3 separate regions of the Homo sapiens genome follow, and regions 1 and 3 are each linked to region 2. Evidence: fine-mapped expression QTL. A gene starts in region 2. Each other region holds a variant in brackets. All regions are shown on one strand. Distances are from middle to middle.

What was found.
Region 1: its variant is fine-mapped to the expression of PPARA in lung (TOPMed, PIP above 0.99).
Region 3: its variant is fine-mapped to the expression of PPARA in left ventricle (GTEx, PIP above 0.99).

Annotation. Positions count from the first base shown.
Region 1 is chr22:46,240,710-46,250,563 of GRCh38, reverse strand. It overlaps PPARA (peroxisome proliferator activated receptor alpha), which reads right to left. Exons shown (of 9, transcript NM_005036.6): 9 at 6,809-9,854. CDPF1 (cysteine rich DPF motif domain containing 1) reads left to right here and starts at 271. Exons shown (of 4, transcript NM_207327.5): 1 at 271-308; 2 at 2,280-2,392; 3 at 3,343-3,454; 4 at 5,326-6,551. The coding sequence starts at 2,280. The coding sequence ends at 5,472. RefSeq lists silencers at 83-412, 523-692 and an enhancer at 1-488. The variant A/G (reference allele first, on the strand shown) is at 4,480.
Region 2 is chr22:46,146,040-46,155,893 of GRCh38, reverse strand. PPARA (peroxisome proliferator activated receptor alpha) reads right to left here and starts at 5,368. Exons shown (of 9, transcript NM_005036.6): 1 at 5,242-5,368; 2 at 3,924-4,006. RefSeq lists an enhancer at 4,628-4,817 and silencers at 5,028-5,147, 5,298-5,907.
Region 3 is chr22:45,159,700-45,169,553 of GRCh38, reverse strand. It overlaps NUP50 (nucleoporin 50), which reads right to left and starts at 5,629. Exons shown (of 8, transcript NM_007172.4): 1 at 5,258-5,629; 2 at 1,308-1,386. The coding sequence starts at 1,376. NUP50-DT (NUP50 divergent transcript) reads left to right here and starts at 5,773. Exons shown (of 3, transcript NR_038956.1): 1 at 5,773-5,977. RefSeq lists silencers at 4,858-5,037, 5,068-5,297, 6,068-6,117, 9,552-9,846 and an enhancer at 5,178-5,700. The variant G/C (reference allele first, on the strand shown) is at 4,431.

The sequences.
Region 1 (9,854 bases), 95 kb before region 2:
TCAGAAAGAAGCTGAGCGCCTCGCAGCGGCCAGGACAGCGGGCCAGGCCCGCGCGCTCCCGCAGCGCACGGCCAGACGCGACGCCCCTCAGCACGGAACCCAGCCTCGCGGACTACCCCGAAGCTCAGAGCCACATCCCGCGCAGAGGACCGCGGCGACCGGAAAAGCAAGGCAGAGGCGGAAAACCACCGCGAGGTCCCGCCTCCCGCTCCGCGCCTGCGTCTGCGGCTGCACCGGGGTTGGCCGGGCCGCGGTGGGGCGGGGCCGCTCAGGCGCCTTGGACGCGGAGCCGTGGGACGAGGGCGGCGGTGAGTTCGAGGTGGCAGAGTGACTGGGGCGAGCGTGCTGTGGCCCTTCCCTGCGCTGCCTCAGGGTGCCTCCCGCTCGCCGGGACTGAGTTCCGCGCCGGCGTGGCCTGCTGGGTTCCAAGCGCCAGGAGTCGGCGCAGCCGCTCTCAGCTTTGGGGACGGGACCGAGAAGCGGGGTGTGGGCCTCACGGGACTGTCCCCCCTGACCTCGGGCAGCGCTGGGGCGAGAGAGGGCAGGCGGAGGCTCGCGGGGACCACCAGCATCCCCGGACCCTCTCAGCCGTCCCTGTTCACAGGCACCGCCCCCAGGAGCCTCGGCAGGGGCCTAGGACGCCCCGGCGTGCAGAAGAGAAGCGGGATCAGGTTCACGCACACCCGCGATCGATCGTAACTTTTGTTTTGAGACAGAGTCTCGCTCTGTCGCCCAGGCTGGAATGCAGTGGCGCGATCTCGGCTCACCGCAACCTCCGCCCCCCCAGCCCCCGCTCCCCAACCCCCCGCTCAAGCGATTCTCCTACCTCAGTCTCCTGAGTAGATGAGATTAGAGGCGCCCGCCCCCACGCCCGGCTAATATTTTATTTTATTTAATTTTAATTTTTATTTTTTTGAGAAGGAGTCTCGCCCTGTCGCCCAGGCTGGAGTACAGTGGCACAATCTCGGCTCACTGCAATCTCCGCCTCCTAGGTTCAAGTGATTCCCCTGCCTCAGCTTCCTAAGTAGCTGGGATTACAGGCACCCGCCACTATGCTCGGCTAATTTTTGTACTTTTAGTAGAGATGGGGTTTCGCCATGTTGGCTAGGTTGGTCTTGAACTCCTGACCTCAGGTAATCCGCCCGCCTCTGGCTACCAGAGTGCTGGGATTACAGGTATGAGCAACCACACCGGGCCAGACTTAACTTTTAAAGTCACTGGTAACCCATGCTTCCTGGAGTTGCATCTGGGGACACCCAGTGGGGAAAGCCATCGCATTTGATACGCCTTTATACACCACGCTCAGTTCAGGCGAGGGGAGGTCACAGCCAAGAGCTAGGGGCCAGCTGATAATGTCGTACTTGATTCCATAGTCAAAGAAGGAGCTGGGTAATCAGCAAAATTGTAACTTTTGATGAACCCATCAGATGGCAGCCATTTAGCCAGAAATCTAAGGAAAGAGAGGCCTCCAAGACCCAACCATGAACATGAGAAGGGGGTTCCATACAAGCAGATAAGAAAACAGTTTTTTTGTTTGTTTGTTTTTTGAGATGGAGTCTCGCTGTCTCCCAGGCTGGAGTGCAGTGACGCGATCTCGGCTCACTGCAAGCTCCGTCTCCTGGGTTCACGCCATTCTCCTGCCTCAGACTCCCATGTAGCTGAGACTATAGGCGCCCGCCACCACGCCTGGCTAATTTTTTGTATTTTTAGTAGAGGCGGGGTTTCACCATGTTAGCTAGATGGTCTCGATCTCCTGACCTCGTGATCCGCCTGCCTTGGCCTCCCAAAGTGCTGGGATTACAGGCATGAGCCACTGCGCCTGGCCAAGAAAACAGTTCTAATGTCCACACCACGTGTGGACTAATGTGAGGGCATAGAGCTTCTAGGAGCAGCAGAAACAGGAGATTTTGCACCCACTCTGGGCCCTTCTCCACCAGCGTTCACTGGGGGCTTGTGGTAAAGAATGGGGCAGAGCAGGAGACCGGAACGCTTTTACCGTGGTGCAGACCTGGAAGAAGAGATGGGTGCTCTGGCTTGATCCTGTCTGGATCCTTCTCTCTAGCAGTACAAAAACCTTAAACCATTGGAATATGGACAGCAAATCCTGTCACTCTGGGCACCGGTGAAAACCTGTTTCAGCTGGGGATAGAGAAAAGGGTACGGTAGGGAGGCAAGAAACTGTGCTAGGACTATATGGTTAGGGTCTTCATAGCTGGGAAAGGGGCAGGATTCCTGAGAAAGCCTGTGACCCAGGGACACCCCATCTCTTGATCTTGCAGATGGCGTCCCATGTAGAGTGCCGTCCTCTGGGAGTGTTTGAGTGTGAACTCTGTACCTTGACAGCTCCGTACAGCTATGTGGGACAGAAGCCCCCCAACACCCAGTCGATGGTGTGAGTGCATGCCTTTTGGGCCAGTGCCGGGGAGGCCTGTGCCCAGTGCTGGTTGGTGGGTGGTGTGCCTAGGTCTGACAACTGTCTCAGGTGTGGAGCTTTAGACCCCACCCTGGCCAGGCTCTGAATGCTTCTGGTGTAATCTCTGGAGGCCTGGGCAAGGCTTGAGGTCTGACTCTTCCAGAACCTTCCTCCACACCTAGCCCAGAGTCCAATACCTGCTCTAGCTGTGGGGGAGCAGCTCAGCAGCTGGGGGACCTGTGGTGGCCTCCCCCTTTGGGGCTGCACCCTTGCCATGACACTTTCTTAATGGGAGGCCTGTCTCCCCTGCAGACCTGGATTAGAGCCAGTGGGTCAGGGGGCTTATCTCTTGACCTCCAGCTTGTCCTTCATCAAATGCCACTTTGTTGGAAAGCTGGCCGGTGTGTTACTCACATGGGATGCAGTGGCAGGGGCATGGCTTTTTCCTTCTGGCTGTCGTCCCTCTGCTGACCAGGAGCCTGAGTGTCATCATGTCACCCTGGGGTCTCATTCTGATGTGTAGCATGAGGCCAGCTGGCTTCCAGGGGCTGTGAGGGTGTGGCTTGGGGTGTAGGGAGGCCTGGGGTATTCAGGTGGCAGCCTTGTGCCCCCACTGTGGTGAATCAGTCAGGGTCTGGGGGCCCATGTTGCAGCAGCCCTGCTTTTGGCTGAGAACAAGGGGTTCTCTCTACCATGGCTGTTACAGAGGTGAGAGCAGGTTCAATTTCAGTGCCAGTGTGGCCCCCAATTGCTGATCCTTTCTGTCACTGCCCTGCAGCACGGGTGGCCTAGTCCCCTGCCCTGATGAGCCCACGCAGGTATGCAGGCCCTGCAGAGGTGCAGGCTGCTGCTGCCTGGCCATAGGTCATGGCTGATTTTCCGACGGCAGAGATTTGGGCTGTTCTGACGCTGCATTCACTCTCCTGCAGCCTCCTGGAGGAAAGCTATGTCATGAAGGATCCCTTCACCTCCGACAAGGACAGATTCCTGGTCCTCGGCTCGTGCTGCAGTTTGTGCAGCAGGCTGGTGTGTGTGGGCCCGGTGGGTAAGCAGCGTGGGCTGGGGCCACCTGTCCTTGCTGTGGTTATCCTGGAGCTCTCCCTGGGTAGGGAGGGCTGGGAGAGAGGGAGCAGCGGGTTCACCCCATTATAGATGGGGCCCCTCAGCTGATGAAGGGGAGAGGTGAGAGGGCAAGCTAGGGTCAGTTAGAGGGTCTCAGCCTGGTGTAGGAATGGAAATAGGTAATTGGTGGCTCTGCACCCACCCCAGTGGCCCCTCAGGGTTCCTCCCCTTCCCACCAACAGTGCAGACAGTCCTTGTGCGCCCTCTCACCAGGATGGTGACTTACTTTCTAGATGTTCTTGGAGGGATCTCCAGGAGAAGGGACTGTCCTTTCATGAGCACTTGTTGTGTGCCAGGTCCTGTGCTTGGGACCTGTTTTACTGCTGAGGCTTCATTCAGTCCTGCCCCTTAGTCAGGTAAAGCAGTATTATATTCCACCCATTTTATAGATGAGGGAACTGAGCTTCAGAGAGGCTGGGTGGGCCAGGTTCACCTGGGTAGCTGTAAACCCAAGGACGGATGGAAGTGGAGCAGCATGGCTTTCACAGCGTGCCCAGTGTACTCAGAGTGACCCCAGAGTCTGAGAAGTCCCTGAGCATCTGCCACAGGTTGACACACACAAAGGGGAGCTGTATCAATAGCCAGGGGGACGAGATGGGCCAGGGTGGGAGGAGCCTCCGCAGTGTGGCATGGGAGTATCTGAGGCTCATGGAGGAGCTGGTGGTCCAGGAGAAGCTGGGAAAGGAAGACTGCAAAGGTGGGTGGGCCAGGTGGGGAGGTGGAGGTCTTGAATGCAACACCTTGGCCTTGGGCTGCTCTTCGTGAGCAGCGGGGTGGCGGGGGTGGGGGGCGCACGCAGGTACCACAAGTCTGCAGCTTTCTTTGTTTAAACAGTAGGTTGTTAGTGAGCGGATCTCCATGGCGAAGGGTCTTTTCTAAGAACTGCAGGAGGGCAGCCTTATGTTTGCGAGCACACTAAGCTTTAAGAACAGACAGACACCAAA[A/G]ATAAGAGTGGCCTAAGTAAAGCAAATAGTTATTTACTTACTTTCTCCTATGTAAGAGTCCAGAACTGGTGGCCTTGGCTGGAAGGGCACCCCTGTTGTCTTCAGCAGAGTCTCTATTTGGGTCCCTTGTGGCTGTGGAGCTCCCACCATCATATTTGCATCCCAGGCAGCGGGAAGGGACGTGAGAGCACAGTCCATGCCTTCAAAGGGCATGACCAGGAGGTGGCACACACAGTTGCTGACGCCCCTAACCAGCCTGAGTCACATGGCGATGCCCAGTTACAGAGGGGGCTGGGGAATGTCATCCTTAGCCACGTGCTGTGCACCGTGATGAATCTCGGGAGTTCTAGTGTGTAAGAGAGAGGAGAGCGGACATGGCTGCACGGTTCTGGCCTCCTGCCCAGACTAGCTGGCTCGTCCATGGCGTCTTTGGTCTGTGGGGCTGTCCTTCCTGTCCCCTGCCGCTCCCAGCACCAGGTGGCCACTGTTCGTGCTGCGATAGCTGGGACGGGAGGACTCTGGGATTTTCGGGGCATGGCCTGTGCTCCAGCTTTCCATTGTTGTCACTGCCCCGTGATGGAGCAGAGCAGGCCCCAGAGTCTTTCTGTCCCATCCCAGCTGTTCCCACCCAGGGTAGCCCAGGCCTGCATTGCTTTTCTCCTGGACACCCTGCCAGGCCCTCAGGCCTGGCTCTCCCTCTTGCTGGTCTAGCTCTGGCCACCTGCCCACACTGTGCATGCTGGGGCCCCAGCCCAGCCCCCCAAGTGTGGGAAGGGCTGGCCCCTGGGAGGAGCTGCACCATGTTCCCAGGATACTCAAGCCTCCATCCTTGTCCACTTCTTTAAGGAATGCAGTTTATTCTACTCCAAGAGATTCTGCCTCCCTTGTGTCCGGGAGAACATCAATGCTTTTCCTCAGGAAATTCGGCAAGACTTGGAGAAAAGGAAAGCTCCATCAAAGAGGACCCCCAGCCAGCCCGGTTCTCGGACGTGAGTGCAACTGGGGCTAGGTCATCGGGCGGCACCCTGCACAGAGCTCCTGGGCCAGCCTGCGCCAGGGATGCTGCTGAGCTGGGAGCCGCCATGCCTGGCCTTGTTTCTGGACCACTGGGAGCAGCACTGCAGCCCAGGGGAGCTGGAGTCCAGCTTGGAGCAGCCACAGGCCCAGGGAGCTGTAGCAAGAGGGTAGTCCAAAGGCAGATGCCAGACAAGACACAGCCAGGAACCCGGCCAGGTCCCCCCACATGCCCCTCAGGGCCCAGGCCTGAGTGAGTGCTGCTCAGATGTGACTGAGAGGGATGACCTCCTTCAGCAGGGCAGCTCCTAAGAGGCTGCGTGCAGGTGCGTGTGGGGGGAGATGCCACACTGTGTCGGGGCCATGGTGCACTGTAGGTGGCTGCAATGGTCTCTCTGTAAGGAAAATCACTGACAGCAGCTCCTTCTGGACCCAGTCTGGAAGGTCTAGAGGGGGATAGAATTTTTATTTCATATCCTTATGTGGTGCTTGGAAAATGTTTTTAACCTTGACCATGTATTATGTTTATAATTAAAAACCCAAAGAACCAGCTCATGTTTGGAAAAGGAATCTTCCACTGAAACATTTGGATACCCGACGTTCTCCCTGGACACTTGGCCCGGCAATAGTTGGGGTCTCCTGGGAAGCTGAGTGCTGGCTTCTAGCCTCTCCAGTTCCCTCAGACTCTGTCTTCAGCTCGGGCCCCTCCGTTCTGTCTCCCTCGACTCCAAGTCAGGAATACCGTGGGCTTCCTGCCCTCACCCCACACCTCAAGACCATCCCACTGCTTGCCTGCTTGCCCCCTGCCATCTCGCACTCAGCCCTGGGTGCCTGTGAAGCCTGGCCCCACTGCCTGCCGGGGGTTCCTGCAGCACCCCCCTACTCCAGGCTCCCCATCTCCCTGAAGCTTCCAGGGTAGCAGCTGGTGGGACACTGATCTGTGAGCTCTGGAATGTCTGCTTAGAATTCTGAGAGGCAGGAACTGCTCTGTCTTTGTAACTACTCAAGGCCAACTGTCACATGAAGGAATGAATAAAGAGTTTTTACTGACTTGTGCACTGATGGACTTTAAGATGCTCACTGCTTTAAAAGTTCCCGTTGTATGTGACTTCAGACGAAAGGATGTCGTATTCCGGAGCCAGATTGTCCTTGATCCATTCTGTATGTTGAAGGACACAAAAGGGACTGTGCAGGTGGAGACAGCCTCCATGAGGGGCGCAGGGACTGTTCTGGCGGAGGGCGGACCCCACAGCTGGGGACTTGGTTCTTTTAGACCAAACAGTCCATCTCGCAGCATCACTCAAAACTCACCAAAAAATTTTAAAAAATAGTTTATTTTTTAAAACCATTAAGGCAAAACTGTACCCTGAAATTAACTCTGTACATTCATCAGTCTTACAGTAGGACATCCCAAACACAGAAGTTCCCATATATTCAGGATATAAATCAATACATGTGGTCAGTTCAGTCTCCTAATAGGAAAACGAAGACCCAAGATTTTTTTTTAAAATTAAGGTTATTTTATAGCCATTTTCTAATTGCCTGGAACCAATCAGTTCATGTGACTAGAAAAATTACTTTCGCTCTTCTCTGCACATCCTTGATTCCGGAGGTCCTGGATGCCCGCTCCCCCCACCAGGAGAGAGGTATGAAGTTGGAGAGAGGATGCTGGGGCCTGTGTGGCAGTTCCTACTTTGGAACTGCACCTTTTTAGCACAAATAAGAAGCTGTAAGCCCCAAAATACTGAGAGTATAAGGCACTCACTAGTAGAGCACATGTGGAGAGTCTGGGCCCAGTCCTTGCTCTGGGATCTGCCTCATTCTCGCGTGTGTTTCTGTCAACCCTCTCTCTTAGGGTTTTAGCCTAATGGCATTATGAATCCCAGAGGGTGTAACCAATATGCACCAAGAAGTTTTGCCAAGTTATTGGAAACAAGGTATGGGGAGACTCACGGGGTCTGTGGTTTCTGCTTTCTGCTTTGGGTTGGGCCACCTGGAGGATGCCAGAGAACCGGCACGTGCAAAGAATTTCCATCAGGACATTTCCAATTGCCAGCGTTCTTTGGTAATAACCCATAGGTAACAGTTCCCTGAAGAGCAGACAGCTATTTACTAAACAAGAATAGTGAAGGGTCTTTAGCGAAACACTGTTGTATGAAATCGGTGGCCTCTAATACGGAGTCTAAGGCCTCGCTGGTGGAAGTGACTAGAGATAGCCTCTCTTGTGCTCTGTGCATATACAGTGTGGTAAAGGGAACAGATTTCCACATTGAAAGTAAATTCTGCATGGCTCAGGAGAAATGAAGAGCTGTGTGTGTGTGTGTGTGTGTGTGTGTGTGCACGCACACGTGTACGCAGTGTATTTTAGATGTTTGATTTCAGCTTCCTTTGTGTTTCCAATAGGGTCAAGAGCCAGGCTTTTAAGAATATGAGTCAATTAACACTGATTTCAAAAGAATCCAAATGTTTCTTATTAAATGAGTGATTGTAAGTTAGTAAAATATTTGTATTAGGATATTTTTCAAAAAGTCAAATCACAGTATTTAAGATATAGCTATTAACGTAGTTCTTTTTACCACACAATGTAGAAAAAAGTGATATTTAACATGAACACTGTAACTTTACCAAAAAGAGTACTACATGGTCTTCATCTTTTGTGAGGTACATGAGAAAAGGAACTGACTGTGCCTTAAAAAAAGTGAAGTTGCCAAAAGTGAGTGATTTTATTGTGAAATGATCGGCCAGTCACTCGTCTCCGGGGCCTGAAGGCTGACCCTCTCTGACTTGAGGCACAGCCAAGGCCTGGGGGTCCGGGGAAGGTGCCCGACTGTGTCCCAGGGCTGCGGCATGCCCCCCCACGCCCGGTCACCACTTTTCCTAGGAGCCAGGCTGCGTGGACTGGGGGCCTGTTTGTGCACCAGTTTGCACGGCACTTTATCAATTCATTAAATGAATGGATTTTGGATGCTGGATGTGTGGGCAGAAGAGGGGCAAGAGAAGAGGTGGCAGGTAGACTCCCTCCTCCTCACATTTGACCCAACTAGCAAACTTAAAAAAAATAAAATAAAATAAAAGCTGACCCCCCTCCCCAGGTCTTAGTTTGCTATCTCTGATGTAAAAATCAATTATTTTTTCTCTCTTTTTTTTTTTTTTTTTTCAAATAATCCATCTAACAGCCATGAGACCACTCAAGTATTTGAGGTCATCAGCTGCGTCCATCAAGACATGATATTGAACATGGACACCATCTGGTCTGTTGGTCTGTTTTTGTTGGCAAAGGACTCCAAAAGGATGCAGTTGTATGTGTTTCAGCTGAACCACATACCATAGCTCCTCTCCCCTCACAAAAGGGTTTCTCTGGGGGGAGAAAAGTAACTGATTATACCTCTCATGTCTCAAACTGAAATTCTGAGAAGCAAATGGTCAGTTGAGGGCCCCATTCCAGATCTGCCGGGACGTCCTCAGATGTCCAGAGCTGGCAAAAGGTGGAGCAGGCAGCAGCCTTGGGCACCAGCCTGTCTCTTTCTGTTCTGATAAGGCCACACACATGGCTTTTTGTGATAAGCTTCCAGCCCATGCCACTGAAATAACGTTTAAGAACCTGCTGCATTTCACAGAAATAGCGTAATGGAAATCATTATGTAATTAAACAAAGCATGAAGCTCATTATCTTTTTCTTTTTAACAAAACCTTCAATTTCACATTTTAGTGTACACTGTGGTTTCCAGAGAAATATATGGATCTCCTATATTCTGAGTCAGACCAAATTTATTGCCTTTATTCTTACCCTAGTCTATGGGGTCAATAACCGTTTTCCTGAATGCTGTCAAAATGGTGCCTGAAAATATCTAAATCCCAGCAAAAACCTAGGCCTCAACTTTGGAACCCAGTCATAGATCTTTCTAGGCAGAAGGCCTCTCAGGGGAGTACATGCCCTGGGCAAAGGCCATGGACTCGGAAGCAGGAAGGTCACGGGATGATTTAATGGCATCGAATAATCCTTTGGTGAGATGGCCTTTGTTGCCCTCAGCACAGTCGAGGCAGGTTAATCATTTATTTGCCACAACCCTTCCTTGCTCTGTAAAGCTGCAGCACAACTGGGTGGTCCGTATAGCCTTTTCTGCCACAGATGTTTGTGGACATTTCACTTCCAGACTGTGACGTCTGAAGATGGGCTTGAATGACAGCAGCCATCATCGCTGCCATTAGGGAGGTGCACACAGCCCCCTTTGCTCGATGCAAATATTTGGTTGGTAAGAAATTCCAGTGCAGCTAAACAAGTCAGCTTGGACTGAGTTAAGAAAAGCTGGGCCACTTTTAACATGAGAAGAGCAGATACTTCCCCATGCTTGGCAATGCCA
Region 2 (9,854 bases):
AGAAGCTCAGTGCATGCAAGCGGCAGAAATACTTGGAAAAAGAAGCACATTCTTTTAAACATGGGCCGCTGGAACAGCTAAGGCTTTCTCCTATTTGATTCTTACCTTAAACCCATCTTATCACCAAGTTGAAAATGTAAATTCTGTGCCCAAGTTTCCCTAACCACATGGCCTTAAAGGTGATCTAGCTTATTCTGGGCAATTCATAAGGCTGAAATGACAGACATAGCACATTTCTACCCCATAATCAGAAACTATACCTTTTTAAAAAGTATCTACAGCTGGGCGCAGTGGCTCACACCTGTAATCCCAGCACTTTGGGAGGCCGAGGCGGGTGGATCACCTGAGATCAGGAGTTCGAGACCAGCCTGGCCAACATGGCAAAACCCCGTCTCTACTAAAAATACAAAAAATAGCCAGGTGTGGTGGTGGGCACCTGTAATCCCAGCTACTGGGGAGACTGAGGCAGGAGAATCGCTTGAACCCAGGAGGCGGAGGTTGCAGTGAGCTGAGATTGCGCCACTGCACGCCAGTCTGGGCAACAAGAGCTAAACTCCGTCTCAAAAAAAGAAAAGAAAAGAAAAATGGACTCTATGCCAGGCTACCAAAAACAAATAAAAACAGAGACTCTCAAGTTCCAAAAAAGCAGAAATTAGACAGGCCACAACCTCTAACTGCAATGTGACAAAATTAGTACAAACATTAAAGAAAAACACTGACTACTTGGAAGTAAAGACACTCATCCTATTTGCCATTAAAAATATATCCATCCACACACAGAAACCAATAGAGCAAAAAAAGAGAAGAAAAATTGGCATGTTTCAAATATATTTATAATAAGCAAATACATATTTTAATTAATGTGGTTTTTTTTTTTTTTTTTTTTTTTTTTTTTTTTTTTTTTTAAAGAAAGACCACTTATGCCGGGTGCAGTGGTTCATGGCTTAGTCCCAGCACTATGGGAGGCCGAGGCAGGAGGATGGCTTGAGCCCAGGAGTTTGAGACAGGTCTGAACAACATAGCAAGACCCCGTCTCTGCAAAAAATACAAAAATGAGTCAGGCCTGGTGGCGTGTGCCTGTGGTCCTAGCTGCTTGGGAGGCTGAGGTGGGAGGATCACCTGAGCCCAGGGAGGTCGAGGCTGCAATAGGCCGTGATCATGCAGCTGTGCTCTAGCCTAGGTGACACAGTGAGACCCTGTCTCAAAAATAAATAAATAAATAAATAAAATTAAAAACACTGCTTAAAGATGATTACATAAATATTTATTTATTTTTTGAGACCAGGTCTCACTCTGTCACCCAGGCTGGAGTGTAGTGGTGCCATCTCAGTCACTGCAACCTCCACTTCTCAGGCTCAAGGGATCCTCCCACCTCAGCCTCCCAAGTAGATGGGGCCACAGGCACACGCCACTATACCTGGCTAATTTTTGTATTTTTAGTAGATGCAGGGTTTCGCCAGGTTGCCCAGGCTGGTCTTGAAGCCCTGGGCTCAAGCAATCCATCCCCTTCGGCCTCACAAAGTGCTGAAACCATAGGCGTGAGCCACTGCGCCCAGGCTACTTAAATATTTATTTAAAAAACAGACTCTCCAAAACAGCATGCAAGAAAAAGAACACTGGCCACCAATTACTAAAGAGTAAGATGTCCCGGCAAAAATAGGTTCTTCATCTTTTACCATGATGAGGATTATCTTTAAGTTTCTTTTTTATATTCTGGTATGAAAATCAGTTTCATGGATTCATGCTTGTCTTGTTCAGCACTGCGGACAGTAGCCCACAGCAGCTACTCAGTCAATATTTATAGAATGACTGTATTAAATATATACACATAAAGAGATTGGCTAAATATTATTGTATCTAAACACAATGGGATATTATATAGACATTTCAAATGATGCAGAAATGTTTTTCACATAGGAAGATTTTTCATAACCTACTCGATAAAGCAAGTTACAAAATAGTGTATAAAGAAGACACATTTTCTCCTTCTTCTCTGTCTAGTTCTGTCTCTCTCATATACAATTTTTTTTTTTTGGAAACGGAGTCTTGCTCTGTCACCCAGGCTGGGGTGCTGTGGTGCCATCTCAGCTCACTGCAACCTCCACCTCCCGGGTTCAAGAGATTCTCCTGCTTCAGCCTCCTGAGTAGCTGGGACCATAGGCACCCGCCACCATGCCCAGCTAATTTTTGTATTTTTAGTAGAGACAGGGTTTCACCATATTGGCCAGGCTGGTCTCAAACTCCTGATCTTGTCATCTGCCCACCTCAGCCTCCCAAAGATTACAGGTGTGAGCCACCGCACCCGGCTGATACACAATTTTTAAAACTCTGTTCATAAGTTTGACAAACAGGAGCTAATGAAAACCACTGCAGTATTCGATGATTATGACACGTCTCCTACTTTACGTTTAAGATGTCGGAAAAGGGCCCGGCGCGGTGGCTCGCACCTGTAACCTCAGCCCTTTGGGAGGCCAAGGCAGGCGGTTCACCTGAGGTCAGGAGTTTGAGACCAGCCCAGCCAACATGGTGAAACCCACCTCTACTAAAAATACAAAAATTAGCCGGGTGTGGTGGTGAGTGCCTGTAATCCCAGCTACTCGGGAGGCTGAGGCAGGAGTATTGTTCGAATCCGTGAGGTGGACGTTGCGGTGAGCCAAGATCATGCCACTGCACTCCAGCCTGGGTGACAAGAGCAAAACTCTGTCACAAAAAAAAAAAAAAAAAAAAAAAGGATGTGGGAAAAGAAAGAAAAAACATTTTTTTCTAATGTCAATTAGTTAATTAATTTTATTTTATTTATTTATTTTTGAGACGGAGTCTCGCCCTGGCGCCCAGGCTGCAGTGCAGTGGCACAATCTCAGTTCACTAAAACCTTCACCTCCCAGGCTCAAGCGATTCTCCTGCCTCAGTTTCTTGAGTAGCTGGGATTACAGATGTCCGCCACCATGCCCAGGCAATATTTCTATTTTTTTGTAGAGACAAGGTTTCACCATGTTGGCCAGGCTGGTCTCGAACTCCTGGCCTCAAGCGATCTGCCCACCCCAGCTTCCAAAGTGCTGGGATTACAGGAGTGAGCCACCGCACCCAACTTGCCAATTAGTTTACTTTTGCTTCAGAGTTGCAGAGGTCATCATCAGCCCCAGTGTCCCTGGTCTCTCATGGATGGTGACCACACAAATTTGTATCATCTGGCCCGTTTCTTCAGCCTATCCCTGGCATGTTCTGGCACGGGTCTATCTCAAGAAGCCATCTGCTTAATATTCAAATCAAAATGAAAACAGCTCAGAGACAGTACACTACTCGGTACCAGTCAGTGTGGACATCCCAAGGGTCTAGTAAGCACTCACGTTTCTCAAAGTTAATGTCATCAAGTTTTAAATTATACAAAACATGCCTGCCACGAAGCAATGAAGTTCCTAGCAAAAGTCACACAATAACTCAGAACTTCAAAGTGAATCCTAGGCCAGGCACGGTGGCTCACGTCTGTAATCCCAGCACTTTGGGAGGAACAGGTGGATCATGAGGTCAGGAGTTCAAGATCAGCCTGGCCAAGATGGTGAAACCCCGCCTCTACTAAAACTACAAAAATTAGCTGGGCATGGTGGCAGGCGCCTGTAATCCCAGCTACTCGGGAGGCTGAGGCAAGAGAATCGCTTGAACCCCAGTGGCAGAGGTTGCTGTGATCTGAGATTAGGCCACTGCACTCCAGCCTGGGCGGCAGAGCGAGACTCCGTCTCAAAAAAAAAAAAAAAAAAAAAAAATGAATCCATGCACATGTATTTTACTTTCAGTCTGAAAACGTATCTAACCTTGCATCACAAAGTAATAACCCCCAGATTGCTGGTCTGTAGTGCAACAGAAGTAAACACTGAAAACACTTAAATATTTCCATCTGGAAACAGTAAATTAAACCTTCTATTTACCTGTGGTGACAGCTTCTCAGTTCTGAGCTTGTCTTGCCACAAACTGTTGAGTCCACAGAGCAGACAGGGCCCTGAGCTTCAGCCTGGCAGTAAGAAGGTGAAGGAGGAAGTGATTACGGTTGTTCTCTGGATGCCCCCCAACTCTTCACCTTGGAAGAGGAAAGTCATGCTGACCCTGCCCCGCAACGACACGGGTGTCGCAGGGTCCTTCCCAGGAAAATCCCGTGTCCTTGCCCTGACCCAGTTCCCCAAGGCACCCTTATCCCAAGGAGGCTGGGAGAGGAGGGGCCTCCCTGGTTTCCTGGCAGGGGTCGGCTGAGGCTGACGTGGGCGTGCAGCCCCGGAGGTCCCACGAAGCCCAGGCCATTGGACAACTGTGGGTTTTTCTTGGAAAGAATCCTGACACTTGGAGCACACTTCCTCTCTTTTAACTTTTAAAAAAGACTTCAGAAAAGCACAGGCGTGCAGTTGTGCCCGGTTGGGGTGCGTGAGGGGGCAGGGCCGACCCTCCTGACTTCCACTGGCACCACCCCGCGCCCCTCCAGCTTCACCCGCACCACGCGGGCCGCGCAGCCCGGGACTCCGGAAAGACCTGGGCGCCCGACCCTCAGCGGCCCCGACCGGGAGCGACGTGGCGCGGCTTCCGCAGAGAAGCCACCCGGCCCAGCGCAGCCTGTCCGGGGTCGCCCCGCCGCGTTGGGGCACAAAGTGGGAACCGTTCCTCAAAGGTGGTCGCAGCTGGAGGAACAAACACGCGCGTCTCCGTCCGACGGCAGAAGCCGGGCGCACCCACCCAGGGTCGGTCTGTCCGGGGCCCGGGTTTCCTCGCCTCGGAGATCCCTGGAGGTCTCGGAAAGCACCTTCTGAGTCGGCGACGCCCCAGCTCCGCTGCGCCGAGGAAAGGGCAAGTCCCGATGTCCCCGCCCGTGGGCCCTCCCTCCGAGGGGACAACCCGAAGACCCAGAGTCGCTGCGGTCCCCAGACCCGACCTCCGCGCAGCGCCAAACCCCAGGGACAGCCGCGGACTCGGGTTCCGGGCAGGCCCCCAGCGCTAGGAGGGAGGCCGAGCTGGGCCCCGAGATCCCTCGCAAGAGTCCTCGGTGTGTGTCCTCGCTCCTCGCCCTCAGGTCCCCAGCCGCGCACCCCGGGCCCCCGGGTCCCCGGGACCCGGAGACCCCGAGACCCCGGGCCCCGCGCATGCGCCGCCCAGCCCCTGCCCCTCCCCCGTCCGCCGCCCTCCGGGTCCCGGGACCTGGGAAGCCCGGACCGCGGACCCCCGCGCGCGTTCCCGCCCGCCCGCCCGCCCGCCCCCGGGCACCTGGGCCGCGGTCCGCCGCCTGCCGGTCCGTGGGGCGAACGCCGAAGGAGGCGGCGCCGGGCAGGGCGCTAGCGGCCGCCTCCGCCCCCGCCGCCCGCTGCCCCCGCCGCGGGGCCGCCGCGTCCACGGCCCATGCCCGGCGCCGCCTCCGCGCGTCCGTGCCAGCCGCGCCCCCGCGACACGCACCGCCCCTCGGCCCGCCCCCTGCCCCGGTCCGCGCGAGCCAGTGTCCCGAGGCCCGACCCGGAAGCCCCGCCCGCCCCGCGCGCCCTCCGGGCCCCGGGCCTCGGCCCCGGGACACACCCCCCGGAGGGCGGCGCCCGATTGGCTGCTCGCGGTGGGCGGGGCCCCGGGAGCGCTCAGCGGCTCCCACCTAGCGCCCCGCGGCCGCTGCAGCCAAGGGAAACTGAGGCCGGAGAGGTGGAGGGACCGTCCAAGGTCACCGATGGGACACCGCTGAGCGTCAGCGCCCCTCCAGCCCGGCGCACCGGGGCGGGGCTGAATTCGAGGCGGGGACGCGCGGCCGCGGGGCGGGTGGAGGTTCCCGCCGGGCGCCCGTGCCACGCTGGCGAGCCCCTCCTGCCTCCTCGATGAGCCCGGCTCTGCTACTCTGTGCGATGAGCCGGTCTAGACCCGGGACCCGGGACCGGGTGCCCTTGAGGCTCAGAAGTGCGTAGGGTGGGAGGCGGCCCGGGAGGGACCTTGTCCCTGGAACCCCAGGATGCAAAATAAGGAGAAGGGGAAGGCGAGCTGGGAGGACAAGGAAACAGGTGGCGGGAGGTGCCAGGGCGGTGTGGTGGGCGGGGGAACGAGGAGGGTGAAGGGCAACGCGGACGGGCTCGGGGAGGCGCCGCCAGCTCCGACCCCACAACCCCACCCCTCTCCAGCGGCCCAAGAGCCATGCCCGCCCCTACTTCATGCGCTGGGGGGTGAGGGGCTGACTTTGTGCCTACGCAAGGCGCTGGGACTCTGCCAGAGCAAGGAGAGGTCGCGGCCCGGTGGCCAATGGCGAGGAGTAGGAGAGCGCCCTGCAAAGCCGCTTTGTTCGGGCCGTGACGCTCGAGCTGCCGGAGCGGAATGCACAAAGCCCCTGGGTGCCGGCACATCAGGGCTCCCCTCCTCGGGAACGCAATGTGTGCTATGCCCGCTCCACTGCCTGCCCTCCGCTGCCAGCTGTGCCTGCCACTGTGCTATTTGTGGCAGCGGGCGCCCAGGAGGACCCACTCCGGAAAGCAAACCCAGATCTCATTAGGCAGGGGAACTGGAGATCAGGCGGGAACTGGCCCTTTCACAAACTTCTCTTAAACTCACCCTTGTTGATTAGCCAGGCACCTATGGTGAACTTTGCCCCACCCTCCAGACACCCACATATCCTTCCCACTGGCACACGGCAACCTCACCTTCTCTTGCACATGTTAGCCAGCAATAGCTATCATTTATGTTGTTTCAGAGTTTATAGGGTGACCTGTACACGTAATATCCTGCATATCTCGTGGGGTGTGCAGGCAGCCACATCCAAGCTTGTCATCCTGTTGTGTTTGGTGAGGGAAGCTGACCCTGGGCTGCCCACGCAGAGCTCAGGGGCTACATCCTCATGAGGACCTCCGGGCTCAAAGACATTACCTGGCATACCCATATCCCAGACTCTCAAGGACCAGGGTCCACACAGGTGTGTGACCCAGATGCACCACCCAGGTCAACCAGGTGTTGAAAGACCTAGTGAACATTCTCATGAACAAGGACAAAGGCTATGTGGGGGTGTGCAGAGTGGTCACGTACACTCAGCAGACATAGGAAAGTGATATTCTTGGGTTTTTTGGGGCTCCCAAGGTTTTAGGGAGAGAAAACTTGTTTTTCATCCATGTGTCCCAGAAATAAGCATTTTCAATCAAATGCTGTCAGCCAGTCTCCCGCAGGCGTCCTGAGGGTAGAAGCAAGTTCAGGACTCTTCTCTTGGGAGTATCCTGGCCAGAAACAGCCCCATATCCATGCTTCCCGGGGGTGGTAGGTTTCTTCTGGGAAACCACGCTCAGATGAGAGAGATGAAGCAATTTTCTGTTGGCCACGAAGACCTTGTCACACACCCAGCATGGGAGCAACTGTCACAAAGGGCACACCCTCACCCCCATTCCCAGCTCCAGGAAGTCTCTCTTTACCTTCTTCAGTGCTGATGAAATGAGGGCCACACGACAGAACAGAAACACCGCTGGCGCAGGGACTGAGTAGAAATCTGTAACTTTGAGGACAAATCAGTGCTCCTGAAAATGTCTCTGAGCACCACCTGAGTTTCCTCTCTGGCGCCTTAGTGACTACTGGGAGCATCTGGTGCATATGGATCTTAGTTCATAGCTACCATTTATGTGGTGACAATGCTGTCTCAGGTCCCTTTTTACATTTTCTGATCCGGAAGATGTTCTGAGGGTAATTATTACTGTGCCCACATTGCAAGATGGAGACTGAGGCACAGAGAAGCCCCATCTGCACTGGGTCCCCCAGGCCAGCGGCAGGGCGCAGGACGGAAGGCAGGTCTGTAAAGCCCACGTCTGCCCTGCTGAGCTGCTCTCTCCTGCAAGTGCTGACCTGCCAGCCAGCCAGAGAAGCCGAGGCTCTCCCACAGCCTCAGGGAAAGAATTGGGAAGCTGGGAATTCAGACGGGAAGGGGTTGCTGGAGGAGGCAACCTGGAGTGATAGGGCTTGGCCGCTCAGTACAGGGCAGCAGTTAGACCCTGAGTGCTGGGAGCAGGTGATGACGGTCATCTGTGTTCAGGGACCCCAGTGCTTTCCCTGACCCTGCCAGGGTGAAGCTTCTCCTATGGGCCTGGGGTCCAGGCTGGAGTCTGTTTGCCAGCCAGGGCCTGCGAAGTTTGCTGCTGGCTTGCCCTCTGCTGATGTGCAAAGCTCTCTGTCAAGGGGGAGTGTGTGCTTCCAGGGTGTCATCCGCCAGGGCAGTGGCCTCTGAGCTCCTGGAAGCGTGCCTGCAGGTCAGGTGGTGGAAGTCCACCGGGGCAGGGGCCGTGGGCTGAGAAAGGGAGGGCTCACTGGCAGCGAGCAGGCGGCTGCTTGGCGACCCAAGGCTGGACCTCGTCGGTGAGGGCCAACCATGGGCATGTCCTTAGTTGCCATCCTGGTACTGACAGCAAAACCCCATGGGTCCAAGGTAACAAAGTATTGTCATACTAGGGGACAGAATCTACAAGAGTCCCACAAGGCAGCTGTGCTTATGCTCATCTTACAGATGAGGAACGAAGGGCCAGGAATGGCAGCATGTGGCCAAGGTCCCCGGCAGGGAGTGAGAACTCTCCCGAGTCCCAGTCCATCAGCACCTGGCCCTGGGTACCCCCGGGGTTCGGTTGTCTGTTGCAGAAGCTGTCTGTTGGCTGATACGGCAGCCTCTGGCAGACTCAGGAGCCCAGGGTCAAGGATCAGATTTCCCTGGTGGCTGCTCCTGGCCCCACAGCTCCAGGGGGGTGGCAGCAGCATGTGCAGAAGCCTGTGGCAGGAGACATTCAAGGGGAGAGAGTGTGGAGATGGCACAAAGCGGGCAGAGCTGGGCAAGGCCCTGGCCAGGCAGGTCTTGCAGCCCAGTGAGGAGTTTAACTTTGGTCCTAAGGGCTGTGGGACACCTGCCATGGAGGGTTGTCAGCAGAGGCATGACTCCATCTGATTAGCACCAAGTGCTGCATGCTACATGTTAACCAGTGGTCACAGCTGAGGTGGTGGGGAGGGGCTTAAGCTGTGCACCCATTCTAGCTTTGCAGGATCTGGAAGCTTCCGCAGGTCCAGAAACTGCTGCTGTCATGACACTGTACCCTTTGAAAATTAACCAGTCCCCAGCTTTGCAGCAGGGCCCATTCGACATGGCTCAGATGTCTGTCTCTGTAGATCTTGAGAAGAACAGGGCAGCCCACCTGCAGCTGCACTGCCTCCCTTCTTTGCCCCTCCAAAGGGACAGGTGTCCACCTCGTCACACAGGATCCAGCTCCAGGGCTAGATCATGGATGTTGTTTATCCAGTCCAGGACATGGACTGGAAGCTGCAGGACCCCTCCCTGTGTCATGCTAGGTGCCGTGGGAGTCTCACTGCAAAGTGTGATGTGTAGATAGACGGATTTTCTTTCTTTACTTTTCTTTTCTTTTTTCTTCTCTTCTCTTCCCTTCCCTTCTCTTCTCTTCTCTTCTCTTCTCTTCTCTTCTCTTCTCTTCTCTTCTCTTCTCTTCTCTTCTCTTCTCTTCTCTTTTTGAGATGGAGTCTTGCTCTGCACTTATGTCCTTGCTGGAGTGCAGTGGTGAGATCTCGGCTCATTGCAACCTCCATCTCCCAGGTTCAAGTGATTCTCCTGACTCATCCTCCTGAGTAGCTGGGATTACAGGCACCTACCACCATACTCGGCTAATTTTTTGTATTTTTCATACAGACAGGGTTTCACCATGTTGACCAGGCTGGTTTCGAACTCCTGACCTCAGGTGATCCGCTCGCCTTGACCTCCTAAAGTGCTGGGATTACAGGCGTGAGCCGCTGCGCCCAACCAGATAGACATATTTGGTCCATAAAGGACAATCTGCTCTGTGTGGAGTTGGATTCTGCAATGATCTGACCCAGTGGTTGGCAGTGAG
Region 3 (9,854 bases), 990 kb after region 2:
TTTATACTAATGATTGATAATGCCCGTGATCATCTCTGTATCTAATTTGTATTATGACTATTCTTATTCTAACTATTTTATGTATTATACTGAAACAGTTTGTGCCTTCAGTCTCTTGCCTCGGCACCTGGGTAATCCTTCGCCCACATCCTATAAGTACAGCTGTGTTTTATTCTTTGTTTTTTAGACAGGGTCTCACCCTGTTGCCCAGGCTGGAGTGCAGTGGTGCAATCACAGGTCACAGCAGCCTTGAACTCCTGGGCTCAAGCAAACCTCCCGCCTCAGCTTCCCAAATTGCTGTGACTATAGGCTCATGCCACCATGTTCAGCTAATTAAAACAATTTTTTGGGGGGTTGGGTGCGGTGGTTCTCGCCTGTAATCCCAGCACTTTGGGAGGCCAAGGCGGGTGGATCACTTGAGGTCAGGAGTTTGAGACCAGTCTGACCAACATGGTGAATCCCTGTCTCTACTAAAAATACAAAAATTAGCTGGGTGTGGTGGTGTACACCTGTAATCCCAGCTACTCGGGAGGCTGAGGCAGGAGAATCACTTGAACCCGGGAGATAAAAGTTGCAGTGAGCCGAGGTTGTGCCACCGCACTCCAGCCTGGGCAACAGGGTGAGACTCTGTCTCAAAAAAAAAAAAAAAAAAAAATTTTTTTTATAGAGACCGGGATCTCTCTATGCTGCCCAGTCCTACTGTTTATAAGGGAAAAATGATCAGATTTCCTCAGGGGAGACCATTTTTATTCTGCTGGAAAAGGAACTAGGCCAATCTCAATTCTATTCCTATAAATGCAATTGTTAGGGGTCTCAGGTCTACCATTAAGAAAAGGAAATAAAGCAGGCCTCCAAGAAGCATTAGGGAAACGGAGTACCACAGACCAAGATGGTGATGGTGTACCACTTTCACATCTGGGCAGTGTGCTAAGTTCATGACTACATCACTTAACTCAGCCTTCAGTCATGACTAAAATGGCTTACTGCAAACATGGGTTCAGAATGCTTCAAGTATACGAAACTCAGGAGGAAAAGTGCTTCTACTAAGGAGAATATTTAAGGAGCAGGCACTAGTGGAAAAGCACATCTAAATGTAATTAATACATTTCTACACTAACTAGAGGTCACAGAAATGTAATTAATAAATATCTACACTAAGTACAGGTCATATAATTTCTTGTCATCTCCCATTCATGATGTTCTTAGAAAGGTCTTTTAGTTCTGTCACAAGTCTTCATGAGGAACCCCAAAATGAATGTAAAAGGCAAAAGAAACAGGAAATCATTCTTAGGGAAGCTGCTTTTTACCTCTTCAGCTTCATCTTCTTGATCCCAATTCCTATCTGTCAGTTCCTTCTCGGCATTTCTTTTGGCCATGTTTTCGAACCTAAGTTATAGAAAACAGAAGAGTTTATTTTTCTAGAAGAATAAATTCTTATAAAGAATTTTAAAAATTCACTCTAGCATGAAGTGAGATAAAAACATCTCTGGTTTTTTTATCAGGGAAAAAAAGCATCTGGAAACTGCTTTAATGAGAACTTTACATTGGTGCTGTTAGGCTCCCAGTGTTACAAATCAATAAAGGCTTTTTCCAGGAGGCAGAAGAAGATTCCTAGGGAACACCAGCAGTCCTGAACAACACTAAACCGACTCCATTTGGAAAAATTAAAATGAAATATCAATTGATTTTTTAAAAATCTGGAATCTGAAGTACTGTATATATAATCAAAAAGTCCTTAACTTATTCTACGCATATACATACTGAAAGTCTTGTCATAAAGAAAATAATTTTAATATTTAAAATTCTCTTAAAGATGACCCATTAAAGAAGTGTATCTTTCAGTAAGAATACGAATAACGGGCTGGAAACGCCTCCACAACACGAATACTGTTCTTTAAGCTACAGCCGACAGAGATACATGGTTCCCAAGACTGAACATTTTGTTGCTTCAAATTGTATATTGCCAAGACAATTAGAAGTCCAAAATGATTAACATGGGTGTGTTAGTATTCTGGGAACTTATAACCTTTCAAAAACAAATCATTGGCTTAACTCTTCAATACGATGGCATTAGTGGAAGGGGCAGGAGTTGGGGAACGGCGTGAACTCTGCAGTGGATTCCGGCACCTAACCAAAGAGGGTGCTCCTGTCCATCCCTTAAAATTTACGATTTGTTTTCTGATCTTAATATCATAACAACAAAACAAAGAAAACCCACAACCCAGAGCTCCGCTATGAGTGTTGTGCTGCCTTCTTCACTAACTCTCCAGCTGGACAAAAAACCTTTCCATTTCCCCTGCTACCCACCTCGCCCAAAAACTTACTGATTAGTTTTGGGGACCTGCCAGGTCTTGTTAAACCTGCCTGAACTCCTTCGTGATACTCTCCCCACTCTTGTTTGCTCTCAACACCACAATACACCAGAGTAAGCTTCCTTATTCTGGTGTATTGTGTAATACAGAGTGTATTACAACCCCACAAAGTGGTCGCTAAGATATGAGGTGACATATCACTCTTTAGTATCTAAAAGTAAAATGCAAATGCTGGTATTCCAAAGGCCTCTACAATTTGATGGCCAGTGGAGTAATTACATACGGGCTGTCAGCTTTTAATACATTTTAGTGATTTTTAAATTTTGTAAGTTTATGCTATTTTTCTGATTACAAATGATATTAAAGTCCAAGATTCTAAAATATAAAGGATGAGAAATAAATACACTTTCCATTCGCTGGGAACCCTCTCTTTTTAATGTCCACCCAAAAACACTTGGTTAAGTTTTGCCATTAATCTTTGTCATACAAACAAAAACAAATACAGGAATAGACATAATTCTTTACTGTGCAGAAACCAGGTCTCTGTACGGATTCTTTTTGGCAATTTTCCTACTCATTAACTAATGTCTCCACCAGAGGGTTGGAGAAGTAAGAAGTCACCAACGGTCACGTTTGCTATTTAAGATTAACTGTGGGGCCAGCGAAGTGCCTCACGCCTGTAATCCCAGCACTTTGGGAGGCCAAGGTGGGCAGATCACTTGAGGTCAGGAGTTTGAGACCAGCCTGGCCAACATGGTGAAACCCCGTCTCTACTAAAAATAAAAAAATTAGCTGGGCGTGGTGGTGGCACCTGTAATCCCAGCTACTCCGGAGGCTGAGGCAGGAGAATCTCTTGAACCCAGGAGGTGGAGGTTGCAGTGAGCTGAGATCGCGCCAATGCACTCCAGCCTATGTGACAGAGCAAGACTCCATCTCAAAAAAAAAAAAAAAAAAAAAAGAAAAAGAAAAAAAAATTAGCTGTGGAGAAAAAAGGGATGGAGCTGAATACACAAAAACTGTAATAGTAAAATTGTAACTTCTAACTCATACCCACAATGAAGAGACAGGTGACGCAGTAAAATAGTCTAAATAAATGTAGGGGCTTCCACGTCCTAACATACTCACCAAATCAGTATATAACCAAAACGCAGGGATCTTTGTTTTGTTTACAGATATACTCCAAATGCCCCAACAGTGCCCAGCTCAAACAGCAGGTGTCCTGTCTGTCATTAGATCAGTGAGCTGGGGAAGTATTTCCCCAGTGAGCATAAAGTATTTCAAAAAATACTAAAAGATGCTGGCATCCCAGTTTTGCCATTTTCTAGCTGTGAGAACTTGGGCAAGTTATATTTAATTTTTGTGCCTCAGTTTCTTCATCTGTGGAACAGGAAGTATTAAGAAAGTTAAGATAAACAAAGACTGGCTTAGAACAGTGCCTGGAGCAGAGGAAGGGCTTAATAAATTATTAAAGAAACAAGTTTTATTAGAAGCAAAGGCTATAAACTATCATTTTCCCTCCAAAACGTAAAAGTTGTAGCATGGAAGAAGAATAACTTGGATTACAAACCAGATTTTTACAAATATTTTACCAAATCCCTATTTTATTTCAAAGCATGACACTTCAGACAATACATTTTACTTTTATGCTAGAAGTGGGGGGGAGAAAAAACCCTCTGTAAAATATTCAGAACAAGGCCTGGCACCTGGAGTCTTATGTCTAGCTACTGTTATGAAGAACTTAAGGGAGGCGGAAGGATCTCTTGAAGCCAGGAGTTGGAAACCAACTTGGTCTCTACGAAAATAAAGATGGACATAGATTAGATGAATAGAAATAAAAAATTAGCCGAGCGTAGTGGCGCACGCCTGTGGTCCCAGCTACTTGGAAAGCTGAGGCAGGAGAATCACTTGAGCCCAGGAGCTTCAGGCTACACAGTGAGCTACCACTACACTGAGGCCTGGTGACAAAGCAAGACCCAGTCTCAATCAAACAATCAATAAAAGGGAATTTAAAAAACGTTTGCGTTTGTGGGTAAAAAACCAAATTAGACATGATTTCTAGGTATGAAGCAACGTGGTGGGAGACTGAAAGTCTAGGTAAACTGGAAAAAAACATTATTT[G/C]TGCCTGATATAGTTATGTGGTCTCTGGCATCTGGTGTAGCTCTGCCCTTGGAAAGCTCAACTTGTCAACATCACCTTAAAACGAAAACACAGATTTGGCTACACTTAATAGTGAAGTGCCTTGTTGGAGGAAAACAACAAGGGGGCCAAGTAAGGAGACAGAAATACCTAATCTCCAAGCTGGTTCTTAATGGAACCGAGCAAATGGGTGATGAATAACCCGGGAACGCAGTAAGACAGGCCAGAGAGGTAATGCGCCCAAGAGAAGAGAGACGAGGGGCGGCCAGGGGGAGAGGAAGCTCGAGAGGAATCGCTAGGAAGGAAACGGAGAAGACCACGCCAGGACAGCCCTGCCAGCCCCCTACCTCCGGCGGGGCCGCAGGGGAGAGTCTCACTCGAGTCGGACGCCGCAGCCCGGTGGGGCCCGGGCCCCGCTTCAAAAACAGCCGGGGCTGCGTCGCCGCTGTCATCCCACCCCACCCTCCACCCGTCGCTCCCCCACCGCGCGCCCCGCCCGGCCCGTGCGCCCGACCCAGGCTCCCTCCCTAGAGTCCCGACCTCTAGCCCTGTACCCCACTTCCCAGGGTCCCGTCCTCCAGCCCCTTAAGCCCCTCCCCAGGGTCTGGTCCCCCGGCCCCGCACCCCTCCCCAGGGGCCCGTCCCCCGGCGCTGAACCCGCACCTCCCTCCCCAGGGTCCAGTCCCCAGCCCTGCACTCGCACTCCCCTCCCAGGCCCGAGCCCGCTCCCGCCCTCCCGGCCCTGGGCTCTCAGCACCAGGCTCCCGCCCTCAGCCTCTTCTCCTCCCGCGCCCGCCGCCGCTCCTCACCTCCTCGGCGGCCGCCGCTGCACTCGCTGGGTCTTGGTTGCGGCGAAACCCGGGGCGCAGCGGCGCAGGGGTCTGGAGCCCGCAGGGGTCGCCGGGCTGAGCGCGCTCGGCCGCTTCCGGTGCTGCGCTGCGGAACTCAGAGGACTTAGTGCTCGGCAAGCCCAGAGACTCAAACACCATATCCCTGGGGGGGCTCCTCACGCTGTGTTCGGCAGGGAGGCGAGAGCGCCGGTTCAGCCAGAGACAGCTGGGGGAACCGCGCCGAACACGCTCCGGGCGGCCATTTTGTAACTCGAATCTACCCCCAAAACCAATTCGAAAAAAAGGGAGGAAAGAAACGCCCGCGTTCAGCTACTGCGCAAGCGCGCCGGCGCTTCCGGCAGTAGCACCTCCTTCCGCCGGCCGGGCCCCTTACGCGGCGCATGCGCCCAGCTCCCTGGAAACCGGCGCGGGGCTGAGAATGCCGGTCTCGCGCAAGCGCGCACGCGCCGACCTTGATCTCGTAGCCGGCGCCAGCAGCCGCGCTTTGGGGCGTCGGCTCACGTGGGGCCGGCAACGCGTCTTCCAGGATGTTCGCGCGCTAGTCGCCGCTGAGGGGCCGGCGATGCGCGAGGAGTTCCGGCGAGGAAGGTCGGTCAGTGGACATGGCCGAGGCCCGCGGTGTCCGCGTGTGGGAGCTGCAGGGCTGAGGAGAGGCCGCCCGCAACCCTCGGGAATCGTGTGAGGTGCCACTGGGGTCGCTTCACATCAGGAGGCCCCGTCTCGGGGGACGCGCGCAGGTGACCCTGCTGGTCGTACCTGGCCGGGGTGGCCCGGAGGGGCTGGGTCTCGGCGCCAGGAGGGGCCGTGTGGGCCGCCTGTTAAAGGACCCCTCGTTCGCTGACATTTGATTTTGCATTGGGTGCCTTCTCTTCTGTTTTTTTCAGCCAGTGAGATCCGTCCTGGGCACTCAGCTGTAGAGCAGGGGAACGAGTCCTGCGCTTTTTGCGCTGAGGTCTCCTGGCCCGTAGGCCAGGCAGCCTCTGAGCTCCTTTCTCACCAGCAGCTTGCGATCCCTCATCCCTGGCCCTGTCACTCCCAGCTGTTTCCAGTGCCGCCCTTTTTTTTTTTTTTTTTTTGAGATGGAGAGTTTAACTTGTTCGCCCAGGCTGGAGTGAAGTGGCACGATCTTGGCCTACTGCAACCTCTGCCTCCCGGATTCAAGCGATTCTCCTGCCTCAGCCTCCCGAGTAGTTGGGATTACAGTCGTGCGCCACCACGCCCGGCTAATGTTTATATTTTTAGTAGAGACGGGTTTTCACCATATTGGTCAGGCTGGTCTCGAACTCGTGACCTCAGGTGATTCCCTCCCCCCGCCCCACCACCTCAGCCTCCCAAAGTGCTGGGATTACAGGCCTGAGCCACCGTTCCCGGCCTCGAGCGCCTTCTTATAAACTGGATGGTGGTTTTTGTTTTCACCTTCAAAGTCGAATCTCCCTAGTCCGTTTATTACCAGAAAGAGGTCTCCACTCAGACCCAGCGAGAGGCTTCTTGGATGTCGCGTAGGAAAGAATTCGGGGCGAGTCCACGGACTAAAGTGAAAGCAAGTGTATTAGAGAAGTGAGAAAGCAAAAGAATGGCAGAGCAGGGCATTCCTGAAAGCGGGAGGAGGAAGGCGCCCGCCTTAGGTACAGTGCTTGTTCAAATCTAAGGTAACACAGCCAAAGAAATCTTGGGGGACATGGGCTCTACCACGAGGGCCCACGACCAAGGTTTCATGCGCGTCCGTGTGAAGAGACCACCAAACAGGATTTGTGTGAGCAACATGGCTGTTTATTTCACCTGGGTGCAGGCGGGCTGAGTCCAAAAAGACAGTCAGCGAAGGGAGATAGGGGTGGGGCCGTTTTATAGGATTTGGGAAGGTAATGGAAAATTACAGTCAAAGGGGGTTGTTCTCTGGTGGGCAGGGGTGGGGGGTCACAAGGTGCTCAGTGGGGGAGCTTCTGAGCCAGGAGAAGGAAATTCACAGGGTTAATCACTTAGTTAAGGTTGGGCAGGAACAAATCACGATGGTGGAATGTCATCAGTTAAGGTGGGGCAGGGCCTTTTCACTTCTTTTGTGATTCTTCAGTTACTTCAGGCCATCTGGGCGTATACGTACAAGTCACAGGGGATGCGATGGCTTGGCTTGGGCTCAGAGGCCTGACACAAGGATTGTTCATCTTTGTTTACTGACTTTGGCAAAGATCTATATTATCTTTAAAGCGAAACCTAAATGAAGAATGCTTTTGATCTTAAGATATTGTTAGGTTTTGAAGGGAAGACGAGAGTTAAAGAATGACACACAGGTCGGGCGCTGTGGCTCACGCCTGTAATCCCAGCACTTTGGGAGGCCGAGGCGGGTGCATCACCTGAGGTCAGGAGTGGGAGACCAGCCCGACCAACATGGTGAAACCTCATCTCTACTAAAAATACAAAAATTAGCGGGGCGTGGTGGCACATGCCTGTAATCTCAGCTACTTGGGAGGCTGAAGCAGGAGAATCACTTGAACCCGCGAGGCAGAGGTTGCAGCGAGCCAAAATCACGCCATTGCACTCCAGGCTGGGTAATACAGTGAGACTGCGTCTCAAAAAAAAAAAAAAAAAAAAAAAAAAACAAAGGGCAGCTCAACAGCAACACAGGTATATGGCAAAAACCTACAGAGATGGGGGATCAGCTTAATGCCAGAGCCCACTGCTGCTTACAGGCTGGGGTACTTATAGGGCAGGAGGGGAATGGGCAGTATGGCTTGCCATGTGAATATACTTACCAGTATATCTATCCATAAAACGTTCTATGATCAGGCAGTTTGGCCCTTGTTCCCTCAGAAAGTGACAGTGATGTTCCTTGCACCTTTGCTGAGCAAGGTTTGATAGGGATGTTCCTTCAATTGGGCCTTTACCCAACAGGGTTTGGTAAGAAAGTTGGGCAGGAAATTTCTCACGGCCTGAACCCCCGTGGAATGTTTCGCTTTGACCAGTGTCTGCGAAATGGCGGGGGGCTTAGAAAATGGTGCAGTTTGGCAGGGCGTGGTGGCTCACGCCTGTAATCCCAGCACTTTGGGAGGCTGAGGCGGGTGGATCACAAGGTCAAGAGATCGAGACCATCCTGGCCAACATGGTGAAACCCTATCTCTACTAAAAATACAAAAAATTAGCCGGGCGTGGTAGCGGGTGCCTGTAGTCCCAGCTACTCAGGAGGCTGAGGCAGGAGAATGGCGTGAACCCAGGAGGCGGAGCTTGCAGTGAGCTGAGATTGCCCCACTGCACTCCCGCCTGGGCAACAGAGCGAGACTCCATCTCAAAAAAAAAAAAAAAAGAAAGAAAGAAAATGGTGCAGTTTGGACTAACAGATACAGCGACATCAAAATGTTTCCTGGGTCTGTTAAGTCCTGGGTTTGTTTAGTGAACGTTATTAATCTGTTCCTGTAACCCTAAACATCTTGTGACTACTAAGAATGCAGCCAACAGGTCTCTGCCTGATTTTACCTACTGCCTCTTCAAGATGGAATTGCTCTGGTTCCAATGCCTCTGACAAACTGGCTGCTTGATCTCTAGGTTGTGACCATGTCAGGGATAGAGGCAGCTTAGGTAGAGGTAGACTTTCTTGTACTCAACATTGAATTGTGGCTTAGTTAAAATCAGAACTTTCATTCTTGGAATAATACAGTATTGTAAGGGTAAGCCAAATGATTAACACATTTACTTAATTACACATTGTAGCATTGAAATAACTGATGCCTTTCTAATGCAAATAAAAAAGATTTATGTATATGATAGCACTGTAGCTGTCTTGCGCCTTACTGGATGGATTTCATTGCTGGCTAAAATGACAACTTTAAACTGGCTATAACTCAGAAGAATGGAGGCACTTTGCACGCAGACATCTACCTCCATTGAATTTGGCTACTTCCTTTTAATGAAGCTCAAGTCTCATGTTATGAAATACTCCTCCAAAGGTGTTAGCCCTTTTTTCCTATACTCTGCCTTTCAAAAATCCCTTTCAATTTGCTTAACCCCTGAGAGCCAAAGGACTGTGATGGTTGTTAGGCTGGGTCATTGTCATCATGTTCAGTAAATAAATACCCAGACATGTCAGTTTACCTACTTTACCTGATTCCAAATGAGTCCATGGTGATGTGATCCTGCCTTTCTTTCTGCTGTTAGAGGTCCATGCCAGGAGCCAGCTTTGTATCAGTTTTGCCACAGTGATCAGGTCATAAATGTCTCAGATCATTCAAGCCCAGTTTAACCTAGCAAAGAAAATGGCAAGATAATATTGCTGTGTTCTAGCTGTGTTCTGGCCTTCATTTTAGGTAGGCTTAAACCTCGACCTGGAGTCATTCCTGTTACGATTTACCAGAAAACACCCAACAGGAAGCCTACAGAACTACACTTTGCTCCTAATGTTAAGGAATGAAAACAGGAAATGTTCTGTTATCTGCCTGGCAGTGGGGCTTTGGAGTTAATCTCCTGGCCGTATCACTTACCAGCTTGGCAGCCTTGGACAAACTGAGCTCTGAGCTCAAGTTTCCTCATCTGTAAAGCGAGGGTGTATTATGTACCTTCATTTGGTTGT